Regions from separate parts of the Homo sapiens genome. Here region 2 is linked to region 1. The links come from fine-mapping of genetic effects on gene expression. A gene starts in region 1. The other region holds a variant in brackets. All regions are shown on one strand. Distances are from middle to middle. Region 1 holds the start of CTU2 (cytosolic thiouridylase subunit 2). Region 2 overlaps ZC3H18 (zinc finger CCCH-type containing 18).

What was found. PIP is the estimated chance that this variant, and not a neighbour inherited with it, causes the effect.
Region 2: its variant is fine-mapped to the expression of CTU2 in fetal neocortex (Walker 2019, PIP 0.95).

The regions. Positions count from the first base shown.
Region 1 is chr16:88,703,218-88,712,361 of GRCh38, forward strand. CTU2 (cytosolic thiouridylase subunit 2) reads left to right here and starts at 3,286. Exons shown (of 15, transcript NM_001012759.3): 1 at 3,286-3,381; 2 at 3,919-3,993; 3 at 6,721-6,799; 4 at 7,006-7,065; 5 at 8,418-8,478; 6 at 9,057-9,144. The coding sequence starts at 3,314. It overlaps RNF166 (ring finger protein 166), which reads right to left and starts at 3,191. Exons shown (of 6, transcript NM_178841.4): 1 at 2,954-3,191. The coding sequence starts at 3,108. RefSeq lists an enhancer at 2,666-3,303 and silencers at 2,925-3,204, 3,245-3,554.
Region 2 is chr16:88,590,095-88,599,500 of GRCh38, forward strand. ZC3H18 (zinc finger CCCH-type containing 18) reads left to right here. Exons shown (of 18, transcript NM_144604.4): 4 at 8,084-8,232; 5 at 8,526-8,618. Among named protein-coding and RNA genes, the nearest start is that of ZC3H18, 24 kb to the left of the region's middle. RefSeq lists an enhancer at 1,617-1,866. The variant T/TC (reference allele first, on the strand shown) is at 5,383.

The sequences.
Region 1 (9,144 bases):
TCTGGAGTGGGAAGAATCTTCTAGAATTGCATCGATTGTTGCATAATTGCAAACACACTGGAAACGACTGGATGGTGCACCTCCTGAGTGAACCCTGAGCTGCCAGAGACCAGGCCGGGGCTCGGCTGCACAGCACGGCCACGGGCTGAGGGGAAGGAAAAGGGTCCCAGGCAGAGCTTGGGAAGAGAGGAAAGGTGCCCAGAAGGTTGGCTGGGAGGAAGACAGCCTCGTCCTCCCCGGAAGGACTCAGGAAAGACACAAGAGGGAACCCAGCCCGACTGGCAGGGCGGCTGGGCCCGAGGAGCAGGAGGCAGAACGAGGCACCCACAGGGTGGGTGCTCTATCGGCCTAGTTTCCAGTGACTGCCAGCCTGGTGTTCAGAGAGCCAGCAGCCGGGAGTAGTGCCCGCTTCCCCCACAGGAAGTTCCTGTCTGCGCCCACCCAGGGGCTGGTGCTGAGCAGCTTCTCAGCTGAAGGAAGTGGCTGAGGGCGATGGGTGTGGGGGCGTCGACAGCCTTACAAAGGGAGGGGCGATCGCGCACTGGCCCTCCCAGCAGGCACCCGGGACTGCCAATGTGTCTCCCACACTGGCCGCTGCACAAGCTGAGAAGCTGGGACGGCCCGTGCCTCAGGGATCTGCCTGGCTGGCAGGCCAGCACCCTCAGCAAGCCCCACAGCTGTCCTGCACGAGTGGAGGCTGCTCACACAGCCCTTCCAGGCAGGTTCGTGATCACGCGTGTCCTGGCCCACAGGCTTCTGGTTACAGAGGTGGCTCACTGCTCAGACTGTCCCCTGGCTGAGAACAGCTCCTGCTGGGCCCCCAGGGGGCCTCCTGCGCGAGGGCTAGAGCAGGGTGCATGCCCCCACACTGGGATACTCTTGCCATGAGAGATCTACCCTGGAGGAGGAAGTTGCTCTGGTTGGGGAGCTTGCGGAGGGGACAGAACCAGACCAGCAACAAACTTCCGAAGGGAACCTGAAGAGCCTTTAAACTTTCTGTGGTCATTTGCATGCATGCCTTAGCAACACCAACAAGAAACAAAGTTAGAAGCAGAGAGAGAACAGCCAGAAAACAAAAGCCAGCAGGAAAAGTCGGGGAGAAAAATCTTTGAAAGGCAAAGGCTGTGTGAAAAGCTCTTGCAGGACCCGCGGTGAGACTAGGATGGTCGTCATTCTACCAAGAAAAGCATGGCAGAGGGGAGTTTTATAGGAAAGATGCTCCACAATTCCATGTGGTTCTGCATTCTGTGTTATGGAAACTACATTTTAGGAAAAGACATATTTGAAAAAGAAGGGCAAAGACCAATTTGTGCAGGTTAGGAAAGTGGAGATGCTGTGGCCGACCACACGGTGAAGGTGTTGGCACCCAAAGCCTACGGGAGGCTTTTCTAAAACAAGGCCTAAGTCAAGCCTCACAGCGCTCAGTAACAGATGAGAAGGTGCGGAACACACCTTCAAACACCCGCTACCTGCTCACAAGAAGGAAGTCCTGCCAGGCGCGGTGGCTCACGCCTGTCATCCCAGCACTTTGGGAGGCTGAGACGGGCAGGTCACCGGAGGTCAGGAGTTCGAGACCAGCCTGGCCAACATGGTGAAACCCCTTGTCTACTAAAAATACAGCAATTAGCCGGGCGTGGTGGCGGGTGCCTGTAATCCCAGCTACTCTGGAGGCTGAGGCAGGAGGATCACTTGAACCCAGGAGATGGAGGTTGCGGTGAGCCGAGATGGCGCCACTGCACTCCAGGCTGGGTGACAAGAGCAAGACTCTGTCTCAAAAAAAAATATTCCCGTTCAGAGGCTGCCCCCCCAAAATGTCACGGCTAAGTGAGATGGAGGAGCAGGGGCAGAGCCTGTAGCAGCCTCACAAGAGAAGTAGGTAGAGCTGTCCCAGCGTGGGCAGGCGCCTGTGCTGCCTGACACAGGTAATGAAGGCAGCTCTGCATCCTGACACTGGCCCTGCCACCTCCGTGGGTGACCAGCACACATCCACCTAGCAGTCCCAGCTCCCTCTGTACCAGGAGCCCCTGAAGTCAGCTGACTTTGCTTGCAAAATGTTCTAGAGCCTCCTACCAGTCTGGGTGCACCCCCCTCCACTCCACCACCTCAGCAGCTTGGATGTCTGCGGGGAAGCCCTCCTGCTCTCTCTCTCCCCTGCCACTGCTGATTTTGCTCAAGAGCTGTATTATTCAGCACTTAGGAGGGAGCAGACACTGATCTAGGCTTCCTCCCAACGGGGCTGGCAGCTCCAGAATACTTGAGCACAGCTCCCCGCCAGGAGAGCCACGTCCTCCAGTTTCTGTTCCTGAAACACCCTGGAGGAGCCGGCTGTGAGCCCTGGTGCAGCTGGAAACCCCAGCAAGGTGGTCAGTGTCTGCTCCTCTGTGGACCAGCCTGCCTGGCTACTCAGTGATCGGTGTGACTCAAGTTCTCCTTCAAACAAAACTAAGAACATCAGACTCCAAACAAGCCCCTCTAAACTTTAGGGAACTCCTTTCCTCTGTAGTCAAAACAGGCAGACAGCGGGTCCGAACAAGAGTTGATAGCAAAAACTACAAGTTATTTATTTACAACTGCCCATTCCAGCCGCACAAGCCCAAATCCACCACCACTGGCGGAGCGGTGGCACCTGCTGCCCTCTGAGTACCGGAGCGCCCGCCGCAGCCGCCGGGGACCCCGAGCTTGGGCAGGGCCGCAGGTCGCCCGGTGAACCGAAGCAGCAGTCGGACCGGGCGCCTGCGGCTGGCGCGAAGGAGGCTGGGCGGGGGATGAACGCGCCCAGAGGGCAGAGGCGGCGCGGCACAGGGAAACCCGGACCCCACGCGCCCCGAGGCCCCGGCGCCCCGAGTCCCCGCGCGCCCAGTCCGGAGCTGCACCGGGGCGGCCGCCGGCCTCGCGACCCCTCCCGCGGCGGGGCACGGCCCCCTCCCCGCGGCCCCTGGGCGGGCGCGCTCACGTGTGGCCGCAGCTGCCGATGGCCACGGGCCGGTGATAGACCTCCAGGCAGATGGGGCAGGTGTACTGCGCCTCCAGGCCGCTGTCGCCGCCCGCCGGCCCGGCCGGCGGCTGCCGCTGCTGAGCCGAGGCCACCAGGCTGCGGAACATAGCCATCCCGGGGCCAGGCCCGCGCCGCCCGCCGCCCGCTGTCCTGGCCCGGGCCGGCCCGCTAGTCACAGCCGCTACTGCGCCGCGCTGACGTCATCGTAGGGCGCCGCCCCCAGCCGGGCTTCGCGGCCGTCACGGCGCCACTCCGACGTCATCGGGGCGCGCCCTCGCGCTGTCGCCGCCACAGTCTGCGACGGGACCCGGCGTGCCCATGTGTCAGGTGGGCGAGGACTACGGGGAGCCGGCGCCTGAGGAGCCGCCCCCGGCGCCGCGGCCCAGGTAAGAGCTGGCGGCCGGACCCGCCAGGCCGCCCCTCGCCTTCCCGCCGCACTCCTGCCCCGAAGGGTCCCGGCCGGGCTTGCTCCGGGAAGCCCCGCGTGGAGAGCGGGACCTCGCTCCCTAGCACTCGGGGAATGCCTGTCAAGCGGTGACGGCCACCTAGAAGGGGACTTACTCCACTGGCTCGCGCCTCTCATCCTAGCAGCCACTGGGGACGGCTCTGCCGCTGACAGTGCTGTCCTTATTCGGAGAGAACTGGTGCCGTGAAGCTGTCTCGCCTCCCCGTGTCAGCCTTGGGAGACTGAAAAGCGGCCTTTATGTGCCCCCTGAGCCGGCTTTTCTAGGCTAAACATCCCCCCAGAGCCTTTGTTTTTCTTGAAGTTTGGACAGAACACAAGCCTGGGTTTGTGTGTGTACCGAGGTGCCTTTCTCTGACCCAACTCAGGGTGAGAAACAGGAGCTGTCTCCCCAAAGCCCACTAGGCGTGGGGAAGATGTGATCTGTGTTTCTCTCTTCTCCCCCCTCCCATCTCCAAAGCCGTGAGCAGAAGTGTGTGAAGTGCAAGGAAGCGCAGCCCGTTGTGGTGATACGAGCCGGAGATGCCTTCTGCAGGTGAGGCCTGGAGGTGGCTGAGACCCTGGCAAACATGGCCTCGCTAGCAGACAGGATAGCCGCAACTTGTGATGCTTTGTTAATTCTTTTTAAAAACATGTACTTACTTTATTCCTGCTCCTGATGGGGTCCCTCGTGCCCCTGGTGTTGAAGTGGAGGCGAAAGCATTGGTTTCCTGCTTGGGAAAGTTTCCCATGAGCTAGCCACAGATCCCCTGATGAGGTTTCTGATGGAACTTATGGGGACAGTTGGAAGTGGGGCCGTGGTGTCTAGACTGGGATAAGCTGTAGGAGGACCAGGCGTTTGGGGGCAGCTGGAATACATCTAGGGGCGGATCAGAGCATCTTGGGAACTTGGCAGATGGTCTGGGTGAAAGTTTTTAATCTCGTGTGAGATGCTTGTTTCATCTGTGGCAGGATAGAGGCTTGGAAGACCTCTAGCTTTCCCCCAGGCGCTTGTCATGTCTTTCTTGGCTTGTAGCCATTGTATTGTTCAGTTGTTTCCACTAGACTCATAGCTCCCTGAAGGGAGGACCAGGTCTCTCTCCTTTTAGCCCTCTTAATTCCCAGTGGTGGTGCGTGGTTTTTTTGTTGTTGTTGTTGTTTTTTTTGAGATGGAGTCTCCCTCTGTCACCCAGGCTGGAGTGCAACAGCTGGAGTGCATGATCCCAGCTCACTGCAACCTTTACCTCCTGGGTTCAAGTGATTCTCCTGCCTCAGCCTCCTGAGTAGCTGGGATTACAGGTGCCTGCCATCATGCCCGGCCAATTGTTTTTGTATTTTTAGTAGAGACAGGGTTTCACCATGTTGGCCAGGCTGGTTTCGAACTCCTGACCTCAAGTGATCCACCTGCCTCGGCCTCCCAAAGTGCTGGGATTACAGGCATGAGCCACCACACCTGGCCAAGATAGGTACTTCTTTAACCACCCAGGAGCATCTGAAATTGCCAAGAACACCAGGCTGCCGGCAGAATTCACTGAGGAGAGGCTGCTGTGGCTGTATGCTAGGCCCTTGTGGCCAGAAGGGCTTTTGCTGTGCTTGCTGGTCCCAAGGAACAGTGGGGAGCCGGCTCTCTAGGGGAAGGCCTTAGGAATCTACATCGAGCTGGGATCCCCAGGGATCATTCAGGTCAGCACGTGGGAGAAACCTTGGCCTTCCCTGACCCACAGGGGACAGCGTGGTTTCAGGAGCCCAGACGCAGCATGTACACGTGGACCCACCACGCTTGAATCCCAGCTGGTGGTGTAGGGCGCAGAGGCTCTCCTGGTCCACAGTGCGGAGGTGAAGCCCAGCACCTGTGTCTCCTTGTATGAGACTCCCCACGCCCAAAGCTGGGTCCTGGGGGTCACTTCCCATGTCCCAGCCTTGATACTTGCCAGTTACCTGCAGTCCCTCACCTGGCATCTTGCTGTTAAACACAGACTTGCTTTACTGTCTGTAAAGGAACCACAGGGGGGTCATTCGGCCTCTTGTACGTGGTATCCATTCAACGTAGGGAGGGACTGCTGTGCACATCAAGTGTGTCTGACAGGAAGGAAGAGACTTAGAGCCCCAGGTGCAGGGTGACTCTTGCAGTGGCATTGTCCGCTCTGTACCGGGTGCTGCTCTTCACCCTGCCTGCCAGGATTGCAGGAGAGCTTTAAAATGCAGACTCCTAGGCCTCACCCCTAGACAATTTGACTTAATTGGTTTGTGCAATTCTAACATACAGCCAGGGCCAAGAACCCCTGACGTAGTGAGCCAGAGTCAGATGGCTGGAAAGTTTATTATGAACAAAGATTACAGCTGGGCGCAGTGGCTCATACCTGGAATCTCAGCACTCTGGGAGGCCCAGGCAGGAGGGTCACTTAAGGCCAGGAGTTTGAGACCAGTCTGGGCAACAAAGTGAGACCTTGTCTCTACAAAAAATACAACAATTAGCTAGGCATGGTGGCATATATCTGTAACCTGTAGTCCTATCTACCTGGGTGGCTGAGGCAGAAGGATCACATGAATCGAGGAGTTTGAGGCTGCAGTGAGCTATAACTGTGGCACTGCACTCCAACCTGGGTGACACATCGAGACCCTGTCTCTTAAAAATGCAGTTCCCAGGCCTGGAAGTTCTGATTCTGTGGGGTTAGGGGAGGAGCCCAGGCCACTCTGTGAGTGAGCCTCTTAGCCATTCCTGGCCCAGTTGAGCCCAGCACACTAAAGATGCCAGCTCTGGGGCCCCAGGATACTGAGCCCTCGCTGTGGCCCACCCCATTTCCGCACTTCACCCCAAAGAGGTGGTGTCTCTGCATGGTGGGTCCTCGCTGTGGCCCGCTCCATTTCCACGTTTCACCTCCAAGAGGTGGTGTCTGTATGTGGTGGGTCTTTTTTTATGGGGTCTGGGTTGGCCTTGCCCTGTACGTGCCTAAGTCTGTCCACTCCACCAGCTGGGCCCTTCTGAGCGCCTGTGGGGAGGGGTGCCGGGGCTCTGCCCTCGTTTGCTGGATGCAGCCTCCGTGGCTGTGCAGTTTGTACCTGGTCGTGGGAGGGGCCGGTGAGCCTCGTGTTCACCCTGAGGAAGCCACTGCCAGAGGGGCCAACCCCGCCCCTTTCACCAGTCTCTGGACAGAGCCTGGATGTGAAGATGCTGCTTTTAAAGATGGAGATTGGCAAAGGACGTCGTCACCTGGCAGCGCCTCAGGACGCTGCTCACTGTGCGGGTAGCAGGCGGTTCCCTCATCTCAGGTCTGTGTTGCAGGGACTGTTTCAAGGCCTTCTACGTCCACAAGTTCAGAGCCATGCTGGGCAAGAACCGGCTCATCTTTCCAGGCGAGAAGGTAGCGTCTGGGTCCTGGGGGTCTGACTGAGCAGCCTGGCCCCTCGAGGTCCCTGCTTGTCCCTCCCACAGGCAGCCTGGCCTGCTGCAGCCCGCCAGCTCCTCCTTGGCCTTTGAGGACAGACTCGATGTCCTAGATGTCCACGAGGTGGGGTGTCTGCCTGTGTTGGAGGTGCGGTGCCCTGAGTGATGTTTTTTCTCCCCCAGGTGCTCTTGGCGTGGTCTGGGGGGCCTTCGTCCAGCTCCATGGTCTGGCAGGTTCTTGAGGTGCGTGTTCACCACCCCGTGGGCCCGGGCTGCTGGGCTGAGCTTCAGGCTGGGGGCCTCCCTTCTCAGCCTGCTGAGGGGCTCTTGGTTGGGGCTAGAGAGCAGTCCACCCTGCGGCCTGGACACTTGGGGGGTTCTCAGATGTGTTCACAACAGGTGCACCAATCAGGAGCTGAGTCCACAGTGTGTGTGTGCGGCCCACTCTCAGATGTGTTTACAGCAGGTGCACAAATCAGAAGCTGGGTCCACAGCGCGTGTGTGCGGCCCACTCTCAGATGTGTTTACAGCAGGTGCACAAATCAGAAGCTGGGTCCACAGTGCGTGTGTGCGGCCCACTCTCAGATGTGTTTACAGCAGGTGCACCAATCAGAAGCTGGGTCCAGAGTGCGTGTGTGCGGCCCACTTGACTTCTGTCCATTTGCTCAACCTGCGTAGAAACACAGTCAGTGGAAAGCTGCATCTTGGCTCAGCCATGTGTGACCCGAGGGAAGATTGGGAAAGGGGCGGGGGTTTGCCAGGAGAAGCAAAGGGAGCAGCGTTTGAGGTGGAGGCGGCGGCCCGCGCAGGGAGGTGGAGGCGGGCTTAGGCTGCACACAGGGCTCGGCTGGGGGTGGTGGGGCTGTGCCCGTGGCCTGTCAAGGGTCAGCTCAGGAAGTCTGAGGCAGGTCGGGCTTCTCAGGAGGGCACAGGAGCGGGATGTGCTTGGTTTCTCTGCACTCTCATGAGAGGTGCAGACCGGAGGAGGCTGTTTCTGTGGGCTGGGTGGTTGAGAGGAGAGGGGTCGGCTTTGCCGGGTTGAGGAGTGGGGTGTTGGTCTCAGGATGGGCGCATGGCACAACACTGCTGAAATTAGTTTTCTGTTTTCTGAGGTCCCCTGAACCTGCCAGGAGGGTGTTGTGAGGGAACTGGCCCAGCCCTCTGTGTAACGCTGGTGCTGCCCTTCCTGTGCCCAGCGGCGCCCCTGCCTCTTGCAGGCTGTTGGTTTCTGCTTGTGAGAGCAAGTGCTTCCTTAGTGGTCAGAAGCGTGTGGGATGGTGGCACAGTGGCCCCGTAACCCAGCCCCCTCTCCTGGGGCGTTGTTGGGACATCCAGGACCAGCTGGTGAGGGGCATGTTTTACCAGGGGGATGAAGACCCCCAGGCTACCCTTTAAAATAAGTCGGGCGTGCGGCCTCGCCTACTGGGCCTGCCCGGCACCTGAGTCTGAATGGCTTTGTCCAATAAACGCAATGGCAGGGGAAGACCACTTCACCTTCCAAGATGGCATTAAATCCAGATGAAGAATGTTCTGAGCTGGAAAAGTGTCCTGTGGCTTATGGCTGGGGGCTGAGTCCCTGCTGCTTCTCCCTCTAGGGCCTGAGCCAAGATTCTGCCAAAAGACTGCGCTTTGTGGCAGGAGTCATCTTTGTTGACGGTATGTGGGGCCATTGCTCCTCCTAGTCCCTGGCCACTTGGGGTAAGCCCTGCGGATCCTCCCTCTGGTGTGGACCCTCCCTCTGGTGCCGGTCCTCCCTCTGGTAGGATGTGTTGAGCTACTGGTGCTGCCCCTGCACTGAGGGCCTGGTGGGGACATCTCCCTGAAGGAGGCAGCAGATGTATCCATCGTTAGGTGGCATCACTGTTCCTGGAATCTAAGAACATCCTTAGAAAGTCGGGGGTGGGAGCAGGAGTGGCGGCTGCCCAGCCCCCATCACGGGGTCTGGGGACAAAGAAGGGCAAGTTAAGTGCTGATGGTGAGCGGGGGCCCAGGGGCCGACTCCCCGACCCTTGCTCCTGCAGAACGAACTCCTGGGGTGTTGACTGTAGCGCTGAGGTCAGCCGCAAGAGAGAAACCCCTGCCCAAAGGAAAATGGCCGACACCCCACAGCTCCGCCAGGAAGCACCGCCCTGCGGAGCGAGGCCTCGAAGGGTTTTCCCAGGTGGAGGTGGCCCTGCAGCCTGCCCTGCCTGGCTCCTCTCTGAGCCCTGACTCTTTCTGCCTGGGTTTTTCAGAGGGAGCAGCCTGTGGCCAGAGCCTAGAGGAGAGATCAAAGACCCTGGCCGAAGTGAAGCCCATTCTGCAAGCAACTGGGTTCCCATG
Region 2 (9,406 bases), 110 kb before region 1:
CAACATTGCAAGAGCTCATCTTTCTTTTTTAAATTACTTGTAGAGATGGGATCTCACTATATTGCTCAGGCTGGTCTCAAATACTAGGCTCAAGCAATCCTTCCACCTCAGCCTCCCAGAGTATGGGGATGACAGGCATGAGCCACTGCTCAGGCCTCTCTTAGCTTTATCTCCGACACGTTGTGATATAGAGATTAATCATTTAATCGCTTAGTGGACACATTGAGATTTGTGACCAAATGACAGCAAAATGCACTGGGAACACACCTTGCTCACATTTTAGAGATCAGTGCTTTGTGTACGCCTGCCCGGCTCCACAGCACATACACTACAACTGGAGCTGTACTTCTTCATGGGATGTTTTTATCTCTCGTGGGCCTGTGTTGGATCATCAGGACACAAAGTTCTGTCCACAGAGGAGTAAGTAGCATCTTCTTTAAACTGTGTCCCACTTTGGGTTTCTTTATTTCTTTTTTTTTTTTTTTTGAGACAGTGTCTCGCTCTGTCACCCGGGCTGGAGTGCAATGGTGAGATCTCGGCTCGTTGGAACCTCCACCTGGGTTCAAGCTATTCTTCTGTCTCAGACTCCCGAGTAGCTGCGATTACAGGCATCTGCCACCACCCCCAACTCATTTTTGTATTTTTAGCAGACATGGGGTTTCATCATGTTGGCCAGGCTGGTCTCGAACCCCTGACCTCAGGTGATCCGCTCACCTCAGCCTCCCAGAGTGCTGGGATTACAGGTGTGAGCCACCACACCCGGCCCCTACTTTGGGCTTCTGATTTATCCCTCAGTGAACAAGCATCCCAGTCCATTTTTTGGGTCTGATCTCCTTGGCTGTGCTCCCCCTAATTTTTTAAAATTGTGGTGGAATACTTTTTTTTTTTTTTTTTGAGATGGAGTCTTGCTCTGTCACCCAGGCTGGAGTGCAGTGGCACCATCTCGGCTCACTGCAAGCTCTGCCTCCTGGGTTCACGCCATTCTCCTGCCTCAGCCTCCTGAGTAGTTGGAACTACAGGCGCCCGCCACCACGCCCAGGTAATTTTTGTAGTTTTTGGTAGAGACGGAGTTTCACTGTGTTAGCCAGGATGGTCCCGATCTCCTGACCTCGTGATCTGCCCTCCTCGGCCTCCCAAAGTGCTGGGATTACAGGCGTGAGTCACTGCACCTGGCCTTCTGTCTTTTTAAGACTGAATAATAGGTGCGGTGGCTGATGCCTGTAATCATAGCACTTTGGGAGGCCGAGGTGGGTGGATCACTCAAGGTTAGGAGTTCGAGACCAGACTGCTCAACATGGTGAAACCCTGTCTCTACTAAAAATACAAAATTAGCTGGGGGTGGTAGAGCACACCTCTAATTCCAGCTATTTGGGAGGCCAAAGCAGGAGAATCGCTTGAACCCAGTAGGTGGAGGTTGCAGTGAGCCAAGATCACACCACTGCACTCCAGCCTGGGCAACAGAACGAGACTCCGTCTCCAAAAAAAAAAAAAAAGATTGACCAATATTTGTTAGTGTGGAGCAGCTGCATTGGGTGTTTCCCTCATCTGTGGGTGGACACTTGGGTGGTTTCCACCTCTAGGCAATTGTGAATAGAGCTGCTGTGAACGTGGGCGTAAAAATCTCTTCAGACCCTGCTTTCAGCTCTTTCGCATGTGCCTGGCAGTGGAGTTGCTGATGACCTGGTGGTTGTGTGTTTCATCTTTTGTGGAACTGCTGGCAGCGGAGTTTCTGATGACGTGGTGGTTGTGTGTTTCATCTTTTGAGGAACCGCTGGCAGTGGAGTTGCTGATGACCTGGTGGTTGTGTGTTTCATCTTTTGAGGAACCGCTGGCAGCGGAGTTTCTGATGACCTGGTGGTTGTATGTTTCATCTTTTGAGGAACCGCTGGCAGCGGAGTTGCTGATGACCTGGTGGTTGTGTGTTTCATCTTTTGCGGAGCCGCTGGCAGTGGAGTTGCTGATGACCTGGTGGTTGTATGTTTCATGTTTTGAGGAGCCGCCAAGCTGTCTTCCACAGTGGCTGTGCCATTTTACTTTCCCACCAGTGGTGTGGGGGCTTCCAGTTTCTCCACGTCCTCACCATTACTCTGTTCTCTGTTTTTTTTTGATAGTAGCCATTTCAGTGGGTAGGAGGTAATATCTTACTGGGTTTTGATCTGCCTTTCCTGAAGATGGGTGGTGGGGTGTCTTTTTTCATGTGCTTAATAGGTCATTTGTGTATCTTCTTGGAGAAATGTCTTTTGCTCAGTTTTGAATCCTTGCAAAACTGTGTTTAAAGCAGCAGGTCTGAGTGTCATCTGTGAACCCCTGGGAGTCCTTGAGACCCTTTCAGGGGACCCTGAGGTCAAAACTATATTTATTTATTTTTCTTTTTCTTTCATTTTATTTTACTTTTGTGAGATACAGTCTCCCTCTGTTGCCCAGGCTGGAGTGCAATGGCGTGATCTCAGCTCACTTGCAACCTCCACCTCCCGGGTTCAAACGATTCTCCTGCCTCAGCCTCCCGAGTAGCTGAGATTACAGGCGCATGCCACCATGCCTGGCTAATTTTTGTATTTTAGTAGTGGCTAAATTTTGTGTTTCAGTTGGTCAGGCTGGTCTCGAACTCCTGACCTCAAATGATCCGACCGCCTTGGCCTCCCAAATCGAAACTATATTTATAATAACAGTAAGGCTGAGCCAGGCATTCACCATGCACTGGCATTTCGAATGCCACTTTACTTCATGTCTGTGCTGTAGTAGTAAGAACTGTAATTTAATTAAATCTTACACTTGTGTACAGATGTATTATTTATTTTTATTATTCGTAAGTTCTTTTTAAAAAACTTTATTAAAGTAATATTTATGTGCCATGAAATTGACCCATTTTAAGTGTACAGTTCCATGATTATATAAGCATATCCCTATGATAAAGTTTAATTTATAAGTTACGCACAGTAAGAGATTAACAACAATAGCCAATCATAAAATAGAGCAATTGTAATAAAAATGTGAATGTGATCTCTCAAAAGAGCTCACTTTACTGCACTCAGCCACTCAGCCATCTGATGACGTGGGATGAAATATGCTCGCATGATGACACGGAGGCCCTGCCACTTAGCATTGGGCCCCCCTTGACCTCCTGCCAATGCGTCAGAAGGAAGGTCACCTGCCCCCAGTGATCCTGGGTCACTGAGCCACAGTGAGCACAGCACCGCCGTACCCCCAACGGTTGTTGGCCAAGAGGGCTGCTAAGTGACTAGTGGGCAGTTAGCGTCGTGGACAGCTTGCATCTGCTGGACAAAGGGATGATTCGTGTCCCAGGTGGGGCAGAGGAGGTCGGCACAAGATTTCATCACGCTGCTCAGCACAGAACATCATTTAAAACTTAGGAATTATTTTTGGAATTTTCGATTTAGTATTTTCAGACGCAGGTAACTGAAACTGTGGAAAGCCAGAAAGCAGAGCTTCTGTGTGTGTCTCAGTACTCAGCGTGGTGGAGTGGCAGCGTGGGTAGAGCCCCTGCCGGCACCCAAGTCCAGCGGCCTCAAGGGGCAGCACGTGCAAGGCTGGAGCTGCGGCTGACCCTGTGCGCTCTCCGTGGAGCACACATTGATGAGAAAGACTGGCAGACATGCCAGGGAATGCAGATCCGGGTCCTGGCAGGAACAAAGTGAGCCTGTGGCTTCAAGGAGAACAACGGACAGTGTTAGCAGTATTAAAATTGGAGCTTTCAGTTGAAAATTGGACTTTTGTGTGCTCACCAGCTTCTCAGTGTGTCAGGACTTTCTCAGGTGACCATTGCAGGATGTCACAGAATCATGCCTGGGTAAAAGACCCATTCAAAGTTCAAGATAGACCAATGGATTTCAGAAGAACCAAGTTGGAAAAGTGTGGTGATAGGGTTCAATTGCAGCTCGCTGTAAGGAGCCTTCCCTTGCTGAGTGCGGTGTCAGGGAGAAGCTCTGAGCACACTGAAAAGGCTTTTAGATGCCCCTCCCTCTCTAGCTGCATCTCTTCCTGGGGCTGTAATGTCCTCTCCTGCTTGAGCCACAGCGGCCCTTCATGGTCGATCGCATGCAGATGGGAGGCCAGGGGTTTTCCAGGGTCAGCATTCAAGAGATTCGCAAAAAGGCAAAGAATGCTATTCCTCTCACCAAATATTTTAAAAACAGTTTCATAAATATTTGTTACTATATATTGGATATCTTGTTATTGTTAAATAATGAGATATCTTTAAGTGTCTCTTAATTTCTAATATCGTACGTATCAATAGAAATGACACATATAAACCAAGTAAACACAGGGAATTGATATTTACTGTATTCAAAATCAGAAGAGACATTTAAAGATACTTCATGTGTGGGCTGTGCTGGAGCATGAGCTGAGCCTCAGTTCCTGCCACCTCTGTGTTTAGTTTCCGGATTTTCCATGTTTCCTATCTGTTTCCTGTCTGTTTCCCTGATCCAGTTTGGGTTGGTTGCTACTGAGCATGCAGGTTCCCTTTCTGTAGTTACATTGTTTAGTGAAAAAAAGCAAGGTTCAGCACAGAGCATAATATATATGCTCAGGTAAAAGGGGGCAATGATTGATGGATGGAGCCCCAGTATATTGATAACTGCCTCTGGGAATGGCCCTGGAGGCATGGGATAGGTGGTCAACTTCACAGTGTACCTTTTAGAGTGGGTGGGTATTTTTTATTTACAAGTATTTCATTTGATTATGAAATATTTCATATATATAAAATAATACAGTGTTTACACAAGCGTAAAGATTAATAAGAGAATAAAACAGTTGGCTGGGCGTGGTGGTTCATGCCTGTAATCCCAGCACTTTGGGAGGCCGAGGCGGGCGGATCACCTGAGGTCGCAAGCTCAAGACTAGCCTGACCAACATGGAGAAACCTCGTTTCTACTAAAAATACAAAATTAGCCAGGCGTGGTGGTGCATGCCTGTAATTCCAGCTACTCGGGAGGCTGAGGCAGGAGAATCACTTGAACCTGGGAGGCGGAGGTTGCAGTGAGCTGAGATTGTGCCATTGCACTCCAGCCTGGGCAACAAGAACAAAACTCCATCTCAAAAAAACAAAAACAAAACAAAAGAAAAACCAGTTGCTGCTGTGCCGACATTCCAGTTAAGAAAAAGACCATCATCCTGTCTTGAAGCCAGAAATAGTACTTAGACATTTCAGCAGTGGAGGGGCCGCCTCCGCCCCGCTCCAGCGGCCTCTGTCCCTCCTTGTCCTCTTCTGGCCTGAGGCCATGTCTGTGTACACAGTATCCGCAGAACTATCTTTATACTGTTAGAATCACAATCCACATAAATTTTGGGTTTGAAGTCCCATTTGTAAACCAGAAGATCTTTATTGTTGCTTCTATTTTCTGGATAATTTCTTTCTTTCTT[T/TC]TTTTTTTTTTTTTTTTTAACAAATTGCTTTTTAAATTATGAAAGTAAGGCTGGGGACGGTAGCTGACACCTGTAATCCCAGCTCTTTGGGAGGCCGAGGTGGGCGGATCACCTGACTTCAGGAGTTTGAGACCAGCCTGGCTAACATGGCGAAACCCTGTCACTACTAAAAATACAAAAATTAGCCGGGCTTGGTGGTGCACACCTGTAATCCCAGCTACTCGGGAGGCTGAGGCAGGAGAGTTGCTTGAACTGTGAGGCAGAGGTTGCAATGAGCCTAGGTCGCTCCACTGCACTCCAGCCTGGGCAACAGAGCGAGACTCCATCTCAAAAAAAAAAAAATTAAAAAAAGGAAAGAAAGTAATATGGGCTGGCAGAAGGCAAGAAAATAAAATCTAAAGCCCCTTCCCACATTCCCGACAGTTGGGTGTGTTCCTACACAGATAAAAGTTCACATTTTAAAAAGATAGATGGGACAATGGTGTTCTTTCTGCCTGACGTCTGCTGGAAGTGTGTCCCAGCTAGACGTGCAGACCAACTGTGCTGCTTTCCAGAGCCATCTTCCCCTTTACTCTGGCCAGGGGCAGGACAGCGCTCAGCACCCCCGGGCAGGTGGCTCCCGAGAGCTGAACACTGTCACCCACTAGTGTCTGGTCTCTAGTGGCAGCCCCACGCTCGCCTTCTCAGCTTGCTCTTTGGCGCTCACTGGTTTGTTCTCTTCTGCCTTGTTCCTCTTTTCTCCCCATGCCAATATCAGTGAGAAAGGATCTTTTTTGATAGTAGGTTCGTAGGTGATGTCCTAAAAATTTTCATAAATACAGAAAAGAACGATAACATTTAGCCACCACCCAGATACATATTTTAGATGAAAAAGAAGTACAGAGGCCGAGTGTGGTGGTTCACGCCTGTAATCCCAGCACTTTGGGAGGCCGAGGCTGGCAGATCACAAGGTCAGGAGTTCGAGACCAGCCTGACCAAGTTGGTGAAGTCCCGTCTCTACTAAAAATACAAAAATTAGCCTGGCATGGTGGTACCCGCCTGTAATCCCAGCTACTCAGGAGGCTGAGGCAGGAGAATCACTGACACCCAGGAGGTGGAGGTTGCAGTGAGCCGAGATTGCATCATTGCACTCCAGCCTGGGACTGTCTCACTCAGTCAGAGTGAGACTCCATCTGAAAAAAAAAGGAAAAGGAGTACAGAAAAGCTGTGGTTTCTATTGTCAGCACTTTTCTGTACTTGGACATTTTTTACAATGAGCTTTTGTTACTTGTTTAGTTACACACGTGATTTTGAATACTGCATGAGTATTTTCAGAGGCAAACCATGAAGAGCTCTGTAGTGTGTTGAGTCTCAGATGGATGACTGCATAGTCAGTTTTTCTTTAAATCTCTCTGAGGCTCTGGATTTTTGAACCCCCTATAGAATAACATTTCCCAACCTCTTTTGTTTTTTGTTGTTGTTTTTGAGAGAGACTCGCTCTGTTGCCCAGGCTGGAGTGCAGTGGCACGATCTCGGCTCACTGCAAGCTCCACCTCCTGGGTTCACGCCATTCTCCTGCTTCAGCCTCCCAAGTAGCTGGGACTACAGGCACCTGCCACCACGTCCGGCTAATTTTTTGTATTTTTTAGTAGAGACGGGGTTTCACCATGTTAGCCAGGATGGTCTTGATCTCTTGACGTCGTGAGCCACCACGCCTGGCCTCCCAACTTCGTTTGACTTATGTGTGATCTCTGAAATGCTTTTAGAAATTTTAAAAATTACTTGTCATTTTTGCATTTCCAGAGAAGCAGTTTTAAGTTTTCTTTCGTGTTTAATTTGGATCGATATTGTTATTATGTTGTATTGAGTTGGTTTTAATGCAGGCTTAAGTGTTCCTGATGTTTAAGGTTAAAATTTTAAATGATTTAAAATCTAACTGCATGTTAACCCATTGAAAAAAATTTTTAAACCGCTTAGATACTATATGCCATATTTGGTTTTAAACAATGTGTACACATTATCTATTCCCAAAAAAGTACATTTTAAAAAAGTGATTCACTCAGTAATTGAGTTAGACACTTAGATGTCTTATATTCTACACTTGAAAGTCGAGGTCTCCTTTACTAACCCGGATATTCTGTTGAAGATGAAGGTTTGTGATTGTTATTTATGAGCAAAGTGTAAAAGCCCGTTTCAGTTCCAGAAATATCTTGAAATGCCCTGTGAGAGTTTTCTCTGTGAGAGAAATGCAGACGTACAGAGGTGGCCAAGGGGACCCTGAGCACACCTGCAGGCTTCTGATCATTGTTAATGCTTCTCATTGATGTCTGTTTCGGCACAAATACAATTAACATCCAGTTGTACCTAGATGAGCCTGGGCCAGGGCTGGAAGCAAAGCTCTGGGGCTTTTCTGGTTTAAGGGGAAAATTAATACTCAGACAGTTGATACGCGTGAACTCTCCACAAAGTGACTTTGTGGTCACTCTGACCGAGGTGCCTGGCAGCCTCTGGGGAACTGCCGTGCCTGGGCAGGTGCAGCTGTCTGGCTCAGCCTCTCCAGGCTCATCCCGCCCACCTCCCCGTTCAGTTCCCACTACTGTGTGGCTCGCCATCAGGCCTGGGTAAACATGGCCTCTGCCCCCTCCCACCCCCCACCCCAGCAGCTGCCCTTGTGCAATTAGGCTCTTGTGGACCCTTTCTGATCTCACTTTTGTTTCCATAGGGAACTGTACCTGGGGAATGAATTGTAGGTTTATACACCCTGGAGTGAACGACAAGGGGAACTACTCCCTAATCACCAAAGCCGACCCCTTCCCGCCTAATGGTGCCCCGCCTCTCGGACCTCACCCGCTGATGCCCGCCAACCCTTGGGTGCGTGATGCCTCTTCTTTCATTGTTAGCACATCAGCCAACTGAGCTGTGTCTGAATCTCAAGCTTAAGACAAGTCACTGTGCCTTAGCACAGGCTCAGTGCCCCCTTTCGGCTGCTTCTGTCGTCCCGAGTGGAAGCAGGCCTCGGCTTTCCGAGGACGGAGTGAGGCTTGGTGGAAGGAGAGCGGCCACACACGGCCGGCTTGTGTTGTAGTTGATGTTTTTACTGTCTGGTTTCTCTGTACACTTGAAAGTTTTACTTTCTCACCTTCTCCCTTCTCGTTTTTCAATAGGGTGGGCCGGTAGTTGATGAAATTTTGCCTCCACCCCCTCCAGAGCCCCCAACAGAGAGTGCCTGGGAACGAGGACTCCGGCATGCAAAGGAGGTAAACACAATTCAGCAGAAATCCCGACAAGAAAGATGCTATTACAGGAGTGGTTCTTGACAAAACTGGGATTTCCTCGGTCCAGAGAGAGCCCCAGAAATCTCTGAAGTTAGGCGTCTGTTTCTGTGGTGTCTTTCTTTATTTTTTATTTATTTATTTTTTTGGAGACAGAGTTTCACTCTTGTTGCCCAGGCTGGAGTGCAATGGCCCAAACTCGACTCACTGCAGCCTCCGCCTCCCAGGTTCATGTGATTCTCCTGCTCGGCCTCCCAAGTAGCTGGGATTACAGGCATGCGCCACCAGGCCCGGAAGGATGGAGAGTTATATCTAACTGTCTCAGGCAGCAGCCCAGTAGGCCAGGGAGTTCAGTCCAGGGCATACCCACTGTCTTCATGGGGCTGGATCAGCACTGGGCCACACCCCAGCTGGCACTGCCCAGGAGCACAGGGTGCAGTCTCCAGCCACTCACAGAAAGCCTGGCGAGGCTGCCCGAGCCGCACCCCCAGGATCTGCACCCCACACTCCTGAGACTCAGTGTCTGCTCTTCCTGGAGAAAACTTGGAGCTTTCTGGTCCTATCACTGCACACTTCCTCCCTCTAGGCCCACGTTGGCCCCAGTGTGTGAGCTTCAGCTCTGGGGACCACTCTGCTGGCACCCAGCCCCACTTCCTCATTTTCCTGGTCAGCCTCCCTGCTGGGAAATGACGGACAAGATGTTCCTTCTCACTCCCTCGGCATGTCACTTCCTTCCCTCTGAGACTCCAGCCACTCCACCTGCTGCTTGTCAC